Regions from separate parts of the Homo sapiens genome. Here region 1 is linked to region 2. Evidence: fine-mapped expression QTL. A gene starts in region 2. The other region holds a variant in brackets. All regions are shown on one strand. Distances are from middle to middle.

Region 1 (8,606 bases), 200 kb after region 2:
TGATCTGCATGACCTTATTATGGCAAAAGAATAGTAAACATTGCACCCTTAAAAAAAAAAAGCAGCTTCAATGAGATGTAATTCACAGACCATACAGTTCAACCATTTAAAGTGTGTAATTTGCCGGGCGCAGTGGCTCCCACCTGTAATCCCAGTACTTTGGGAGGCCAAGGCAGGAGGATCACTTGAGGTTAGGAGTTTGAGACCAGCCTGGCCAACATGGTGAAACCCCGTCTCTACTAAAAATACAAAAATTAGTCGGGCGTGGCAGTGGGTGCCTGTAATCCCAGCTACTCTGGAGGCTGAGGCAGGAGAATGGCTTGAGTCCAAGAGGCGGAAATTGCAGTGAGTCGAGATTGGGCCACTGCACACTAGTTTGGGCAACAGAGCAAGACTCTATCTCAAAACAGAAACAAAAACAAAAACAGGGTGTAATTCATTGAATTTTAGTATCGTAGTCCCCCTTATCTGTAGAGAATATGTTCCAAGACCCTCAGTGGATGACTGAAACTATAGATACCAGTAGACTTGCTTGTTCTGTTTTTTCCTCTTTGTACATACCTAGAAAAAGTTTAATTTATAAATGAGGAATGGCAAGAGGTTAACAACAGTAACTAATAATAAAATAGAACAATTTTAACAATAAGCCAGCATCACTACTCTTGCATTCTGCGGGCATTATTAAGTAAAATAAGGGGTTACTTAAACACAAGCACTACAGTATCAATACTGGCACTGATAACCAAGGCGGCTATTAAGTGACTTACAGGTGGGTGTTCATACAGCATGGAGATGCTGGACAAAGGAATGATTTGCATGCCAAGTGGGATGGGCCGAGACGACACAGGATTTCATCACACCACTCAGAACGGAATACAATGTAAAACTTATGAATTGTTTCTTTCTGGAACTTTTTTTTTTTTCAGATGGAGTCTCTCTCTGTCACCCAGGCTGGAGGGCAGTGGCGCGATCTTGGCTCACTGCAACCTCCACCTCCTGGGTTCAAGGGATTCTCCTGCCTCAGTCTCCCGAATAGCTGGGACTACAGGCGCCCGCCACCATGCCTGGCTAATTTTTGTATTATTAGTAGAGATGGGCTTTCACCATGTTGGCCAGGCTGGTCTCGAACTCCTCACCTCAGGTGATCTGCCCACCTCAGCCTCCCAAAGTGCTGGGATTACAGGTGTGAGCCACCACGCCTGGCCTGGAATTTTCTATTTAATATTTTTGGGCCACAGTTGACTATGGGTAACTGAAACCACAGAAAATAAAGCCACTTGCCCTGTTTTGTGTTTGCTTACACTCTTATTGCTCCCTGAGGTTTTTTTTTTTTTTTTTTTGAGGCAGGATCTCCCTCTTTCACCCAGGCTGGAGTGCAGTGGCGCAGTCATGACTTACTGCAGCGTCAACCTCCCAGGGTCAAGTGTTCCTCCTACCTCAGCCTCCTGAGTAGCTGGGACTACAGGCGTGCACCATCACACTCAGCTAATATTTAAATGCTTTAAATAGAGACAGGGTATCACTTTGTTGCCCAGGCTGGTCTCAAACTCCTGGGCTCAAGTGATCCTCCCACCTCAGCCTCCCAAAGTGCTGAGATTACAGACGTGAGCCCCACGCCCAGCCTCCCTGAACATATTTTATGAGTGTATTGTTTACTTGCCAGACTGTATTCACATAGTTGTTCTAATTTCGGAACATTTTTAAAAAATGAACTCTGTATCCATTAGCAGTCATTCCCAATTTCCTTTTTTTCCCAGCCACTGGCAAGCACTAATCTTCTTTCTGTCTCTCTGGATTTACCTATTCTAGACATTTTACATAAATGGAATCTTACAACATGTGGTATTATGGGTTGAATCGTGTCTCCCCCACCCCTACCAAATTCATAAATTGAAGTCTTAACACCAGTATCTCGGAATGTGGCCTTATTTGAAAACAGGGTCATTGCAGATGCAATTAGTTTAAGAAAGGGTCATTAGAATGGGCCTTAATCCAGTATGTCTGGTGTCCTTATAAAAAGGGGAAATTTAGATATGAAGATACACACAGGGAGAACATCACGTGAAGATGAAAGCAGAGATTGAGGTGATGTTTCTCTACACCAAGGAACACCAAAGATTGCCAGCAAACACCAGAAACTAGGCATGAGTCACAGAACATGTCTCCTTCACAGTCCTCAGGGGGAAGCAACTCTGGATACCTTGATCTTAGACTTCCAGCCTCCAGGACTGTGACACAATAAATTTCTGTTGCTTAAGCCAGCCAGTTTGTGCTACTTTGTTATGGCAGCCCTGGGAAACTAACACATAATGGTCTTTTGTGTCTGGCTTTTTTCACTTAGCATAATGTTTTTTTTTTCTTTACTTTTCTTTTCTTTCTTTTTTTTTTTTTTTTTTTTGAGATGGAGTCTTGCTCCATGGCCCAGACTGGAGTGCAGTGGCGCGATCTCTGCTTACTGCAACCTCCACCTCCTGGGTTCAAGCGATTCTCCTGCCTCAGCCTCCTGAGTAGCTGGGACTACAGGCGTGCACCAGCATGCCTGGCAAATCCTTGTATTTTTAGTAGAGATGGGGTTTTGCCATGTTGGCCAGGCTGGTCTCGAACTCATGACCTCAGGCGATCCACCCACCTCAGCCTCCCAAAGCACTGGGATTACAGGCGCGAACACCGTGCCCAGCTAGCATAATATTTACAAGGCTTTTTTCACTTAGCATAATGTTGTAGCCTATATTAGTACTTCATCCCTTTTTATGAATTAATAACATTCCACAGTATGGATGCAACACCTTTTATTTATCCATTCATCAGTCAATGAACATTTAATTGGTTTCCAGCTTTGGTTTATAATTTTAAAAGCCGGTTGCGCATGGTGGCTCATGCCTGTAATCCCAACACTTTGGGAGGCCGAGGCAGGAGGATCACTTAAGCCCAGGAGTTCAAGGCTACAGTGAGCTATTATTACATCACTGCACTCCAGCCTGGGTGACAGAGAGAGACCCCACTCCTAAAAAAAAAAAAAAAAACTGCCATGAATATTCATGTACAAGTTTTATTAAATTATTATTAGAGACAGGGTCTTGCTATGTTGCCCAGGCTGGTCTCAAACTCCTGTGCTCAAGTGATCCCCCTGCCTCAGCCTCAGTCCCCTGAAGTGCTGGGATTATAGGTGAGAGCCACTGCACTTGGCCCATGTACAAGTTTTTGCTGTATGTACACATATGTTTACATGTCTCTTGGATATATACCTATATTTTTGCTTTATGGGTGTGGAAACTGAGGCCCCAAGAGGTCACTTACTCAAAGTTACCAGCTAGAACTCAAACGGACTGTCCCTTTAACCTAAATGTGTTTGATTTCCAACTCAGAGCTCTTTCAACTATATCACACACACACACACACACACACACACACGCACTCACATGCATGTAAATTCATTCACACATACACACACCAGCACCAGTCAACAAACGCTCCTTTGAGCCCTTTGCTTTGTCCAGAGTGCAAAAGTTCAAGAGAGGCAAACAGAAGTGGCACGATGCTGAGAGAGATAAATGAGGCTTCCAAAGAATAAATAAGTCAGAACATTGATTTGAATATTACCAAGGGATAGACCAGAAACATTTAACGGATTATAAAGAGGTTAGTGAAGAGCGAATGGCCCAAATTTGGCCTTAGGAGCATGCACACCACTCATATTGATTGTGATGAGATTTCTGGAAGTGAACGCACTTTACCAGAAAAATAGTATGCAAGTCAAAGATGTTGCTGTGGAGAGAGCCGCACTGGAAATCAGGACATGGCCCTGCTCATGGAAGGCTGTGACCACCCAGTTATTTACTCCCGGAGAGCGGGGGCAGCTTACATCAGGAAAGTTGCTTACTCTCAGGGTTAGTACAGGAAGATTTGATTTCACTGTTTCT[G/T]TGAGTGAGCCGGATCAGAAGCTATTCTGAGCGTCCTCAAAGGAAATGTGCCAGAAATCATAAATAAAGAAGTCAAGCGCATCCAGTGGCCATATCAAATGTGACATTCCTGAAGAATATGGGAACATGCTATCTTTCAAGCTGCTGATTCTTAAAAAAGGAAAAAGTAGAAAATACCTTAGTCCCAGGGAACAAGAGAAGCCTCTAGAGTTAAAACCTAAACCGAGACAACATAATTCAGGATGTAAAGAGAAAAGCAGTGTTTATCAAAGTGCGAGACTCAGCCATTCGTTGAACATATCTTTATTTTTGACAGTCTCTGCACCAGTCACTCTGTCCCCACTGTTCTCTAGCCCCCGGCTCTGCTTTATTTTTTCTTTCTTACAGTAGTATTTTGTACAGGTTTATTGTTCCCTGGACACATTGTATAAGTGTATTGTTGACTTGCTTATTGTTTATCTCCCAGGCAGGAACTAAAAGTTCTAGGACAGAAACCTGTTTCTTCTTACTCACCTCACTTCCAGATGTTGGTTCCAATTTCCTAATTCACCCCCCTGGCTCCTTTGACCTCTTTCCAATCCATTTTCCTGAAACCAGGCTTGTCATTTCCCTGCTAAAAGTCTTCAGGGTGTCCCCTGGCCTGTGGGACCTTGAGGTTGCATGCTGAAAGGGGCCTGGGCTCCCCATTCTTGGCTACCTGACATCAGGAGGTTCCAGATGAAAACACTTTTTGACCCCCATCTCTGGCTTAGGGCATTTGACATTTTTCCAGGAGCTCTCACCTCTCAGGGCTACTCTCCCCTGATTTCAGCATACTCCCTTGGGTGAGAAGGAAGGAAGGAAGGAAGGAAGGAAGGAAGGAAGGAAGGAAGGGAGGGAGGGAGGGAGGGAGGGAGGGAGGGGAGAGGGAGGGAGGATTTTTTCACCATGCTTTGATTTAATTTGCTCAGCTACTAATCAAGGTGTTGCTCATCTCTCCTGGGACATATCCCTGAACTGTCCAGGCTGAAGGCAGATGACGCCTCGACTGATGCCATTGCATTGCAGAAGGGTCCTTCCTGCAGTCAGCCCCTGACAGTGCCCCCTCTGGGGAAGAGTGGGTCCAGGGACAGACGAGAGGAAGCACCTTGCTGAGTTGTGCTGACACTGGCCAGGAGTGGCCTCGCTCTGCTGAGTCATTGTATGGGGTATGTGTGGCTGCATTAAGGAATAGAGACCACTCTGGTGGCTGCTGTTGAGGATGGCCAAGATCATCAGAGGACAGGAAGCTAAGCCACCTGGCTACTCTCTCTGGAGCTCAGAATGGTGTTCAGGACCAGGAACATCCTTCAGGGGCCAGTGCCGTTCTAGTGTCCTCCAGGCTTTGGGGTGCCACCTGCCAGAGGCATTCTCTGCTCTAAGGCCCCTCCATCAGCTCCTCCACCTCCATGGCCCAGATGGGGCCATGGGTCCTTCCCCTGTCCACTAATGTCTCTCTCCTACCTTCATCCCACCTCCTGACTTCTGCTTCTACTTCTCATTTATTCTTAGCTTCCTCTTGCTACCTTCTGTATGTGTCATTTGGCTTCTGCCTTTGGGAAACCAGAGTCCTGCCTCTCTCCAGAGGCTCACTCTCAAACTCTGCCACAGAGGCTGTGTGGGCTCAGCTGGTCACCCGTACACCTGCAGTGCTGCCCCAGAAGTCACTACCCTGTTCGTGGGGTGGCTGCCTTTGCAACAAGCCCCTACCTTAATCCAGTGTGCAAGGGGTGGGTACATGGGTAGCTTTTTTCTAGAAGGGGCTTTGGGCATGGCAATTCCTTTTTTTTTTTGAGACGGAGTTTTGCTCTTGTTGCCCAGGCTGGAGTGCAATGGCATGATCTCGTCTCACTGCAACCTCTGCCTCCCGGGTTCAAGCAATTCTCCTGCCTCAGCCTCCCGAGTAGCTGGAATTACAGGCAGGTGTCACCATGCCCGGCTAATTTTGTATTTTTAGTAAAGACAGGGTTTCTCCATGTTCGTCAGGCTGGTCTCGAACTCCCAACCTCAGGTGATCCGCCCGCCTCAGCCTCCCAAAGTGCTGGGATTACAGACCTGAGCCACCGCACCTGGCCCCCATGGCAACTCTTAGAACATAATACGTCTTTCTCACAGCCAGCTGCTGCGGCTCATGCCTGCAATCCCAGTACTTCAGGAGGCCAAGGTGGGAGGATAGCTTGAGCCCAGAAGTTCGAGCCCAGCCTGGGCAACATAGGGAGACCCCCATCTCCACAAAAAATACAAAATTAGCTAGGTGTGGTGGTGTGTGTCTGTGGTCCCAGCTACTTGGGAGGCTTAGGCAGGAAGATCACTTGAGCCTGAGAGGTTGAGGCTGCAGTGAACTGTGATCGCACCACTGCATTCCAGCCTGGGTGACAGAGCGAGACTCTGTCTCTAAACAAAATTTAAAAATTAAAAAAAATACATCTTTTCCCAATATAGATGGCAAAGGAGCAAATGAGATTGTGGAGGTGGATATGCTTTGGAAGGTATAACATGCTGTATTGGTACAAAATAATATTAATTGTTGATAATTATTGATAATTAACGTAGCCATTATTGTGGCTACTAATGAAAGTTTTGCTTCCCTGGAACTTGTGGACCAAGGGCAGTGGTTACCAATGGCCATGGTCTTTGATTCCCAAACTCTTGCCAGGAAAGTTGCTGGGACACCAGCCTCCCTCTGCCACCCTGCATTAAAGCTGCTTCATCTAGAATCCTCTGAACCTGCCTCCCCATCTCACTGTTGCTCCTCTGGTGGCTCAGGGCTCCCCCCATCCCAAAGTACACAGATCTTCAGGCCCCAAAGATTCCCAGGTGCTTTCATTTCAGAGCTACTTCCACCAAGGACCCACAACCTTCCAAAGGGCTGGGACCAGCTTGCTCTTCTTCTCAGCCCTGCCCAGGGGATGGGCAAGAGGGTCATGGCTGCCCACAACCCCTAGTCCACATACTCCAGCCCCATGGAGAGAAGGACTCTTCCTCTATCGAAGTCTTAAATTCCAAATACATGACAATGGCTGATTGAGCTTGAGTCAGAGGTCCACACTGGGTAATCAGCTACAACCAAGGGCCATGTTGTACAAACATAGCTGCCAGGAGCCCACCTCTGAGACAGGGAGTGGGCAATGGTTGAGGGAGTCATTCAGGGCCAAGCAGATACCCCTGATGAGGTCCTTTACACCAAGGAAGCTGGCGTACATCAGAGGGCTTGGAGCCTGTCGCAGTAACACGCTGCCACTAGATCTCTCCTAGCGCCTTGGGTTTTCTCTACTGTGGAGCTCTACTGTGTAGGAGACAGTATTCCGTGTAATGGAATTCCCCACAAAAAAATTCATGTAATGTGGCATTTACAACTCAAATGATGCCACAGAAGGGTTGCATGTTATGGTCAAAGTCAAAACCGGTTTCCCTCTGGCAATGTGGTGTGATTGGTGAAGATTATTTTTAATTTTTATTTTATGTATTTATTTATTTTTGAGACAGAGTCTCGCTCTGTCGCCAGGCTGGAGTGCAGTGGCACAATCTCAGCTCACTGCAACCTCCGTCTCCTGGATTGCAGTGGCACAATCTCGGCTCACCGCAACCTCCGCCTCCTGGAGTGCAGTGGCACAATCTTGGCTCACTGCGACCTCCGCCTCCTGGTTCAAGCGACTCTCCTGCCTCAGCCTCCCGAGTAGCTGGGTCTACAGGCGTGCACCACCACACCTGGCTATTTTTTGTATTTTTAGTAGAGATGGGGTTTCACCATATTGGTCTCGATCTGTTGACCTCGTCGTGATCCACCTGCCTCGGCCTCCCAAAGTGCTGGGATTACAGGCGTGAACCACCGCGCCCGGCCGATTGACGATGATATTAAAGAAAGCCTAAGCAAAACCAGCTCCCAGGACCTGTTGCCACCGGAGCCACTCCCCTGGTTCCAGGTGCTGGGCCTGTGCTTAGTCAGGGCTTGGTTAGTCATAAAACAGAAATTCACTGAACTCCTGGGAGTGATCACCTGTTGCTTTTGCCTATTTGGATTCTTTTCCCATTATTCTGAAAACGGGCCCTGTGATTTCTTTTTTTAAAGGATTCTTCACCCTATCTTAGTCTGTTTGGCTTAGGTGGGCCTGACCCCAATCCTCAGATACAGAGGTAAGTACATGGATTGCAATAGGTCAAGGGGGTCGTGTGACCCAGTCTGGGCCAAAGACAGTCAGCCCTGTGACCTTTTCCAGATGAGCCAATGGGTCAGCAGAAACCCTGGTCTGCAGAGTAAAAGGACCAGATATGCAGAGAAAAGCAGAAATGGGATATTGTGTGGAGGAAGAACGAGAGAGAGAGAGAGAGAGAGAGAGAGAAATGGAGGCAGAAGCAACCTTCTCATTCCTGTGATTTCTGGTTATTCTTTCTATAGCAGGAGTCCATGTGACTTTCCCCTTTGCTTTCTAATGACCTCCATTTTTAGTTGAAATTCTCTATTAGTCAAGATTCATTCAATTTTTACACTACAGGAACTCAGATTAAATTAGTTTAAACAAGAAAACGGGAATGTATTGGTTCATATAATTGGAAAACTCAAGGTATGAATTCAGGTATGGCTGGATCTAGGGCTTCAAATGATATCACCAAGATACTGTCTTTTAGCTGAATGCGGTGGTGACTCATGACTGTAGTTCCAGGTACTTG
Region 2 (8,606 bases):
GTGACTTGCTGTCACAGGAAAGGCCACACCTGGCACTGCAGCCAGGGACAGGCTGCATTCTCTTTACCCAGTGTCCATCTGTGCCGGCTCCAGTTTGTCAGTTTCCCTTCCATAAACCCAGAAACTTCACTAGACAATGCAAGAAGTGTTCCTTCTTAGAGCTGTACCATAAGAGCCTGAGAGCTACTCCATGTCCATAAGAGAGAAGACCAGGCAGCAAAATCCGAGAGGCACTTCTGTACCAGAGGGAGCCCGACAAGTCTAAAGACAGCAGCCACCCAGGGGCAACTCTTCCTTCTGTATCCCTGACCTGATTATCAGAGATTAGCAAAACACAACTTCACCGAGAGGAAGCAGCACCCAGTTTCTGAAGTTTGCAGTGGCTTCCTGCCTCTCCAGGGCCTGCCAGGCTGCTCAGAGCACAGCACACCTCCCTCCCGCCTTTCCCCACACCTGGCCCGACTGTGCTGGGGCAGCAACGTAGCCCTCGCCTCCTGACTCAGTCCCGGAAGGCCAGAGACAAGGCTGGGCCCCGTGAAAGGGAGTCACAGTGCAGCGCTGCCGGCCTGTGGCTGGTCCCGCCTCGTCAGCATCCTGGGACAGCCCTGTGTGCAGCTGGCCACCACCTCCCAGCTCAGGCAGAGGGGCAAGTGCCTCCTCTTCTCCGAGCTGCATGTGATCCTCGCCTGCCCCGCGGGGCTGCTGGGGCTTCGCTGAATCAGCGCCTGTGGAGGCGCTTCTATCAGGCCATCTTTCTCCAGCCCTAGCCGCCCCTTCGCAGCGGACACTGTGCTCCTATCAACGCACGGCAGCGCCAGCTATTCCCACCTTCTGTTCACGTCAGACTGGCAGCAGCTCACGTCCCTGGCACCTCTCCGATGCTCTGAACGGCAGCTCCCTTCAACGTGCCTAGAAACCCCTCTGAGAGGAAAGACCATGCTCAGCAGAAAGCGCTACAAACACCCCAACTACACTGAGCATTCCTCAATGCAGCCACCACGTCTGATTCACCTCAGTCCCCTACGCCTGACGTCGGGCCCGGCCCAGAGCAGTCCACCCCCAGGGGTAGTTGCTTCCACCTCCCTTAGTAGCTGGCAGCCTCTGGAGACGAGAGGCCAGCACCTCTGCTTCTCTGAGGCCTGCTGAACACGGGCCTAGGGCATGTACAAAGGAAGCAATCTGCTCCATAGAGCGTTCCCGCCATGTGACTTGATTCTGAAGCAAGGGGCAGTCAGTCCGTCCCCGCCCCTTTACCTTCATATTCTGAGGCCCCAAGCCGAACTTAGATTGGAGACAGAATGTTTCATTTATCCTGCCCTCGTACGTGAATCTTTAGGATAGCAGGAAAGAAAACGCCTGAAGAAGGAAGATTCTGTAAAGCTCTGTCATGTCAAAATAAAGGTGGGGTGCTCACTGACTATAAGCCAATGGTCAGAAAACCTGTCCAACTCTCTGGGCCTCTCTTCCCCACTCTAATACCAAAAGTACCTTGACCAGGAAGTCCAGACTAAACGGAAAGGCGTAACTTACAACCACAGACATGGTCCTCCATAGCCAGTGACATTTCTAATAAGCATTTGTGATCACATGACCCTCCTGAGCACAGCTGTCCAGTGGCTCCCTACAGCCCAGAGAATCCAGTCCACACCCCTGAGCCTGGCCCTCCTGGTCCTTTACGAGCAGACCTCATGCGCCTGTGTGACTATGCAGGCCTCCTCATTGTTTGACACAATCTCATCCGTTATCTGGTCCTGCTTCCCTTCCTGGAGAACTGCAGCCTCCTCGTCTAAACCCGACTCCGGAGCTGCCTGCCTTCAGGGCTTTCCTGATTCACCCTCAGCCCTTCTCTTTGAGATTCTATCACCTGGGACTTCCCTGAGCCCTGTTCTGTATGATGCTCTTTAGCCACCTGCTCTCCTCTTCCAATGTCCCACGTGTCACTCAAAACCTAAGTTCCATATGGGCAGGAACTACATCGTCCTGTGCATTGAGCCAGTGCTCACACGGAGGAGATGCTCAGGAAGCCTTTGTGGGGAGGTGGATGGATCCAGGCAGTGGATGGGAAGGAAGTTTCCAGTCATGATTAAGCCAAAGGGTAAGTCATCTCTATAGTCTAAGGGGTTGGTGAAATACAGCCAAGTTTGGCAAAATACTCCCTACTTTGCAGGGGTTGGCAAACTACAGCCCTGTGTATTTGTAAGTGAAGCTTCATCAGAACACAGCCATGCTATCTATTTACGCACTGTCTCTGGCTGCTTTTGTGCTACAGTGGCAGAGCTGAGCAGTTGTGGCAGAGACCACATGGTCCATAAAGCCTGAAATGCTATCTGGCCCTTTACAGAAAGGATTTGTGGACACAGGGCTAAGGCAGCGCTTCCCATATATTTTCACATTTCACCTCTTTAGAGGTGAGATTTGTGTAGCCTGTTGATTAACAGTGAAGGCTGCTTGCAGCTAAGAGACACCTGGCCTTGGAGCTCTGGCCACCCAAAGGCTGACAGGATCCGTGTCCACAGCTGCCACCTGAGCCACAGTCCCCAGCAGAGCTGTAGGAAACAGGTGCAGAAACCCATGCTGGCCTTCAGCTCTCCCCGTCCATTTCAAAGCAAAAGTGGCAGCACTGGGACAGACACAAAACTGACACCCAAAACCAATCCTCCGGTCACCTCACAAGTTCATGGTCCTTTCCGTCCTTCAAGAACTTGGGAAAGAATGTCCACGTCTTCCCATGGGCTACAGACTGTGTTCCACAGATGCTGAATCCAACAAGCTCCAACCCTTGCTTAGGTTAAAAATGAACACAAATGGATTAACTTTTTGCCAAGCAAAAGGCCTCAGCATGAACAACCACCCGGTACCTGTGACTCCTGGCTGGAGAGCCCAGCCCGGCGGAAACTCAGAAAGGGTGAAGATGCTGATAGGTCACAAGCCCCTCCCCACTGCCAATGGAGATGCCAGAGTGCTCCAGCACAATGGAGTGTGGCCCACCAAAGCCCCATTTCCTAGCCCGGTGGAGATGGCCCTCGCTCCATTCTACCTCCTCTGTACCCTGTCAGTATCTTCCTCCATTCCCCTGCCTTCCCCCGTCCTGGTCAGAAACACCATTGTTCCCTCTATTGCCCACTGAGCAGTGGTCCAGGAGAAGTACTCCAGCAGGTCCCCCGCCCCCGGATGGGTGCTATTGTTCCTTGGCCCAGGGTTGGGGGCCATCATCTTCCCGTCCCTACCCAATCCGGCAGAGGAGCCTGGCCTGTGAGGAGATGCCATTCCTGCCTCTCCATCCCTCTGCTGCTGCGCTCCATCAGCCTCCCTCACGCCTCGCCTGGCCAATGGCAACAGCCTCTTGCTCATCAGCCTTGCCTCCTGACTCTGGTCCTTGGCTATCCAACTGTCCCAATCGACCCTCTGGAACTCACTATTGTGGACAATGGTCATCATTGAAGGACACACCACCCAGGGCCTTTTAAGAAGTGACTGCAGACTGTGTGTCCCACCTGCCACTTGACTCTGCTCATCCTCTCGGGTCCCACAGCAAGGCCCTTCACACTCCCCAAGTGGGCACACTCTCTCTGTGCATGCATGCCAGGCCCGCCTCTGACTCCCCTCCTGGGGATCCCGTCTGGCTCAGTGGGAAGCCTATCGCTCTTGGTAAATTACTCAGTAAGCACTTCTCTCCTGAGGCCTGGCTCCTCTCCTGCCCTCGGCGGGAGACCTGGGAACGGGCCTGCCAGCGCCCAGCCCAGGGCTGGCAAGGAGGATCCCTAGCAGGGAGGGGGAGACCCACTGAAGCCTTTCTCCCTGCACAGAGGAGGACTCTCATTCTGTTCAAATCCTCTGCACCTCTTTCTTCCCCTCCCTGTACTCTCCATCTGGGTCAATGATTTCACCTTCTACTCAGTTGTCTAAGCTGCAGATTCTGACATTTTCTCCAACTGCTCCTTCTCCCCCATCACAGAGCCTGGTAAGAAGCAGTAGGTGACAGTGAATGGTTTTTCTCAATAAATCTACGTGCCCAAGAAGGGAGACATGGTCTTGGCAGCATCACCAGTCAACATCAGAGTTCGTCCAAACTGACATTCCACAGCATTTCCTCTTTGCCGTCCACACAACCGGCTTCTTGCTTGAACATGCTGGTTACAGGGAGCTCATGTCGCACCTCAGCTGCTCTCTCAAGGCTGCGTCTGTCATCGCGGGAGGTGTATTTTAGCTCAAATTGCCCCACTGGCTTCCCATAATTGTCTTTCACCCTTTGGAACCACATACAACAAATAAATATAATCCCTTAAAAATACCTGGCAGGAGTGCCCACGTTCTCTCCAGGTCTCCTCTTCACCAGCCTTAACCTTCTGGTCCTTCCATCTCATTTCAAGGTGCTTTCAGCTTTCCTGAGTTCCCCAGGTGCCAATTTCCATAGGTTTTTTACCTCCCAGATGATGGCTACCATATTCCTTTAACGTAGCCTCTGCAGGAATGAGGGATTTTTAGAAAGCTGAGACTTCCGAGAAGTCTCATGATGGAAGAATCCAAGGGGATCCCAACACCAGATTGCTCTGGAAAATGTGTTACTGTGACGGTGATCCCATGGGTTAGAGCACATGTTTGAAGGCCGAGCCAGGAACGGAGGATGTGGCCAAAAACCAAAGTGTGGATGAGGCGGAACATAAAACACATACTTCCAACAGCACATCCCCTGTCCTCCTTCCCACCCCTGAGGAGCTCTCCAAGTAGCAATTACTGAATTTGCACTTTATTATAGGGTTCAGTTACAGTATAAAATGATGGTCTGTAGAAATTAACCCCAACTGTGTAGCTGGCAAAAAAGAAAACAAAACAAAAAAACAGGCTGCCTGGCCCAGGGCTGACCAGTTGGTCACCTTGCCCAGTAGCACACTAACAAAGGAACAGAAAAAGAACGAGCCCAGAAAGTCTGGATTTTAGGAGGCTAAGGAAGGATCAGGGAGATGTGGGTTGGTTTTTGCTTGGTTTCAAGGCGCACAGGGGATAGCCCAGAAGCCTACAGGAAAGGTGAGCCGAACACATCACAGAGAGAGAAGCCACTGCTGCCAAGTGGGCTTGGAAGACAGAACGGACATTGGTGCCTACTAGCGACGCAAACCACCTGCACACAGCATAGCCTCAGACGGGGTGAGCGCCGCCACTCACCGCACTATAATTTGGGGCAAGTCACCTTATCTAAGCATCTATTTCCTCATCTGTAAAAGGAGAAAATTTCTAATTCCAGTTGTGGTGAAATTCAAAACTAATTCCTCAGAAAGGGCTGCTGTTACCTCTAAAAACAGTCTTAAGAAATGTTATTTCTTCTGGTGGTTAAAAACTCATTAGGGGCCACAATGCTTTGCCACAAATAAGCAGTGTGGTTTGGAGAGATCTCTGGGCTCTACTCTCCCTGTCTGCAAGGTGGGAACAACGATCTATGCACTGCTGCTTCTCCAAGGGCCACCAGTACAGCAAGTCATGAAATGGCAAACGGGAAAGGGCCTGAGAGAGGACTGTGTTCTATGAATGCCAGGCGCTCATTCTCCCTGACACAGTCATGCTCTAGAACACGACAGCCTGGGATTCAAAGGTTCCTTTTTCCTGCTCCCCTCCAGGATTACAGCAGGGTGCACAGAAACATTGCCAAGTGCCCAGAAAGAGGATGACTTGGGGTGGATGAGGAATACTTTGTCCTGAAAAGGATCCCGCAGCCATCCCCGCACCCACCCACGCCTGAGCAGAGACCCAGCTGTCATTCATTAGCCCAGGAGCTGGTAAAGTGGTTACAGCAGCAGAAGAATCCAACACGCTCAACAGGGTGGTTCACAGGCAGCAATTTAGAGACCCCAAAGCCATCCAAGCAGGGCTTACCATACACGGGTCCAACTTGGAGGGAAGACAGCAAACTCCAGGCTGGCAGTCTGCCCTGAGGCCTACTCCAAGGGAAACTCCTGGCAATGACCACTGACCTCTGCAATCTGCCACCACCCATCTCTACTGAGTACTCGTCCAGGGACACCCCCTTGCACTTACACCTCAGACCTGGGCTGCTGCCCCTCTGTGCTCCTCTTCCTTGTACCCAATGAGCCAAAGCCTCACCAGCCTGCCTTCAGAGTCTGGCTTAAATTGTTGAAGACATCCTCATGACCTATCTCAGGCCAGGCAGAGAACATGCACTCGGAAAATATAAGCTAAGTGAAAACACATACCTCAGATTTCACTGAAATTCAAAGAAAAACAAGCTTTAGATAAAAATGCTTCCTCTGTGGATACAGATGCAATGCAGCCCTTCAGTCTGTCCTTCCAGTATGTTAAATCGTTCTTCACAACCAATTTAAATGAAAAGAGCCCTATTTTAGGCCAGGTTATCTGATCTGGAGTCACCTCAAGTCAGAGGGCCTAGCTACCAGCAGAGCCCATCCTGTCGGCCGCAGCCTTTTAATCCATAGCAGGATGGAATAGAAAAAGGCTTTAGAACAGAACTAGGTTCCATTAATGGTTCTAGCACTTAACCTGGAGCATCAGTTTCTTTTGTAAACTAAGGATACTACTATTGCCAGAAAGGTAGCTGGAGAATTCAGAAGAATGTCCAAGTGCCTGGCACACAAGATACAAATGTTGGCATCTCTCCTTCCCCTTCCCTTCCTACTCCTTCAGTCCACTGCTGCTCCAAATGACCTAAACTGAGGGCTGCTGTTCACCTCATTACTTGGGGCATTTAGCAGACACCTGCATGCAGACACCTTTTGTCCAGTGCTGAAACTGCCTGGGCAAACAGTGGCTATCTTCACTCTGCCCACCAGCAGGGTGGCACAGTTCATCTGCAGAAATGGCAAAGTTCTGCCAAGAGAGACCAAGACCCTCCTCAGAAGGAGTAAGTAATTAGAATGTTGACAACTGATCAGTCAAGGCAAAAAAGTCCTCCCTCAATGCTGGCTGAACAAGGCAAAGACTCCACCAAACAGCCTCCCCTGGGGGGAATGTACTAACTTTTGCAGGACATTAGCTAAACAAGTATTTCTTAGATTTAAGAAAAACCTCCTGACTACAAGCCAAATCTTATTTGCCTCCTTAAAGGTAACACTCAGTCCTTGTCTACGTAACGCAGTTTTTATAAACTTGGAGCATCTGAGGGCTCCAATCTATGTTCCCCACTTAGCTCACCTCTTACCAACAGCCAAGGATGCATCTGACCACCTTTCTGCAGAGGCTCCTGAAGTCTTTGTAGACACACAAAGGAATGGAAGATAAGACGTGCACCCTCTATTTAATCCAAAAGCATCAATTTCATCATGTACCCATTTTCCTCTTATCGAAAAAAAGCAACTTTCCAACTGTGTCCAGACAGTAAATGGATAGACAAAAAGAAAGACGAATAGATGGGCAGATATGTTTTCTCTAAGACTAATAGGCAGAAGGGAGGCCTCATATGGTGTTGAGTGCAGATTTTTCCCCCCAAAAGTATCAAAGCAAACTAGAAGAGACAAGCTATAGGAGTGCTTTTCACTGAAGCATCCTAGTCAACAGCCTTTTAAGCACACCAATCAGTTTCCTCCTTTCCTTTCTGTGCTTTAAAGGAACTTGCTTTCTACCTACTAAACACTGGTAAGCCCTGAAGGTTAGATTCCGGAGGCAGTTGTAACCAAACACCTTTTTAAAAAATTATTAATGCACTGGTTGGACACTTGGACTCAGCAGGTAGATATTCTAAGATCAGCCCTTATGAAGTTCTAAGCACCCTTAAATCCCACCCCCCGCCCCCCGCCAAAAAACAAGTATTTACAAACCCTTGGCAGCAGACTGGCTGGTAATTTAACTACTGTAACAGACACATGAGCAACTTCCTTAAGCTTGGATCTGCAGCAACGCCACCACACTAGCTCTCACCAGGTCTTTGGGGTGTGTTTCTTGTCTAACCCCTAGATACCAGGAGTCTTCTCCCAAAGCCTGGCAGCAGCTGACGCCTATCAGCACCAAGGAACCGACACAGCTCCACCCTGAGCAGGCCATGCACCTGCCTCTCCAACACCTGTTGGCAGAGCCTTGCCCTCCTCACGTTCATCCTCACCTCGGCCAACCATGGTAAGAACACTCAACATTCACTGAGTACGTACTCTGCACCAGGTACTGTTCAAAACATATTATGTGTATTAACTCATCTAATTCCTGAGCCCCATGGGAATGTGCTGGAAGGAGAGAAATTCTTTGGCCCAGATTCCCGCATGGTTTCTAGTCTCTATTTCTAGCTGTGCTGTAAAGCTTACATAACCTAATTTGCATTATGGTACTATTTTTAAAAACCTCCAAAGATCGCTGCTTCAAAGCATCAATGGAATCTGTTAGTTCCTACCTAAAATGATAATGTGGGAAAGGATATCTATTCTTACAACCAACTCAACTGGAATTCTTGACTTAAAACAGTCTTTTGGGAAGAGGCTATTAAGAAAGGAAGGGACTCATTCTTATATAAGTACTAGCTCTGTGCTCTGTAAATAAGGGCTAGAGAGAAACACATCAATATTGAAACCCACCTCAGCAGTAGTTTCTTGGCTCTGCTGTTGTTATCCATTTACCACCCATCTCCTTTCCAAGACTCCTAATAACACCGA

What was found.
Region 1: its variant is fine-mapped to the expression of MIR600HG in skeletal muscle (GTEx, PIP above 0.99).

Annotation. Positions count from the first base shown.
Region 1 is chr9:123,307,631-123,316,236 of GRCh38, forward strand. All of the region lies in intron 1 of LOC105376265 (a long non-coding RNA gene), which reads right to left. Among named protein-coding and RNA genes, the nearest start is that of STRBP, 43 kb to the left of the region's middle. The variant G/T (reference allele first, on the strand shown) is at 3,921.
Region 2 is chr9:123,111,637-123,120,242 of GRCh38, forward strand. MIR600HG (MIR600 host gene) reads right to left here and starts at 3,841. Exons shown (of 1, transcript NR_026677.1): 1 at 1-3,841. MIR600 (microRNA 600) reads right to left here and starts at 7; the gene lies at 1-7. It also overlaps a transcript of STRBP not described here. RefSeq lists an enhancer at 323-472.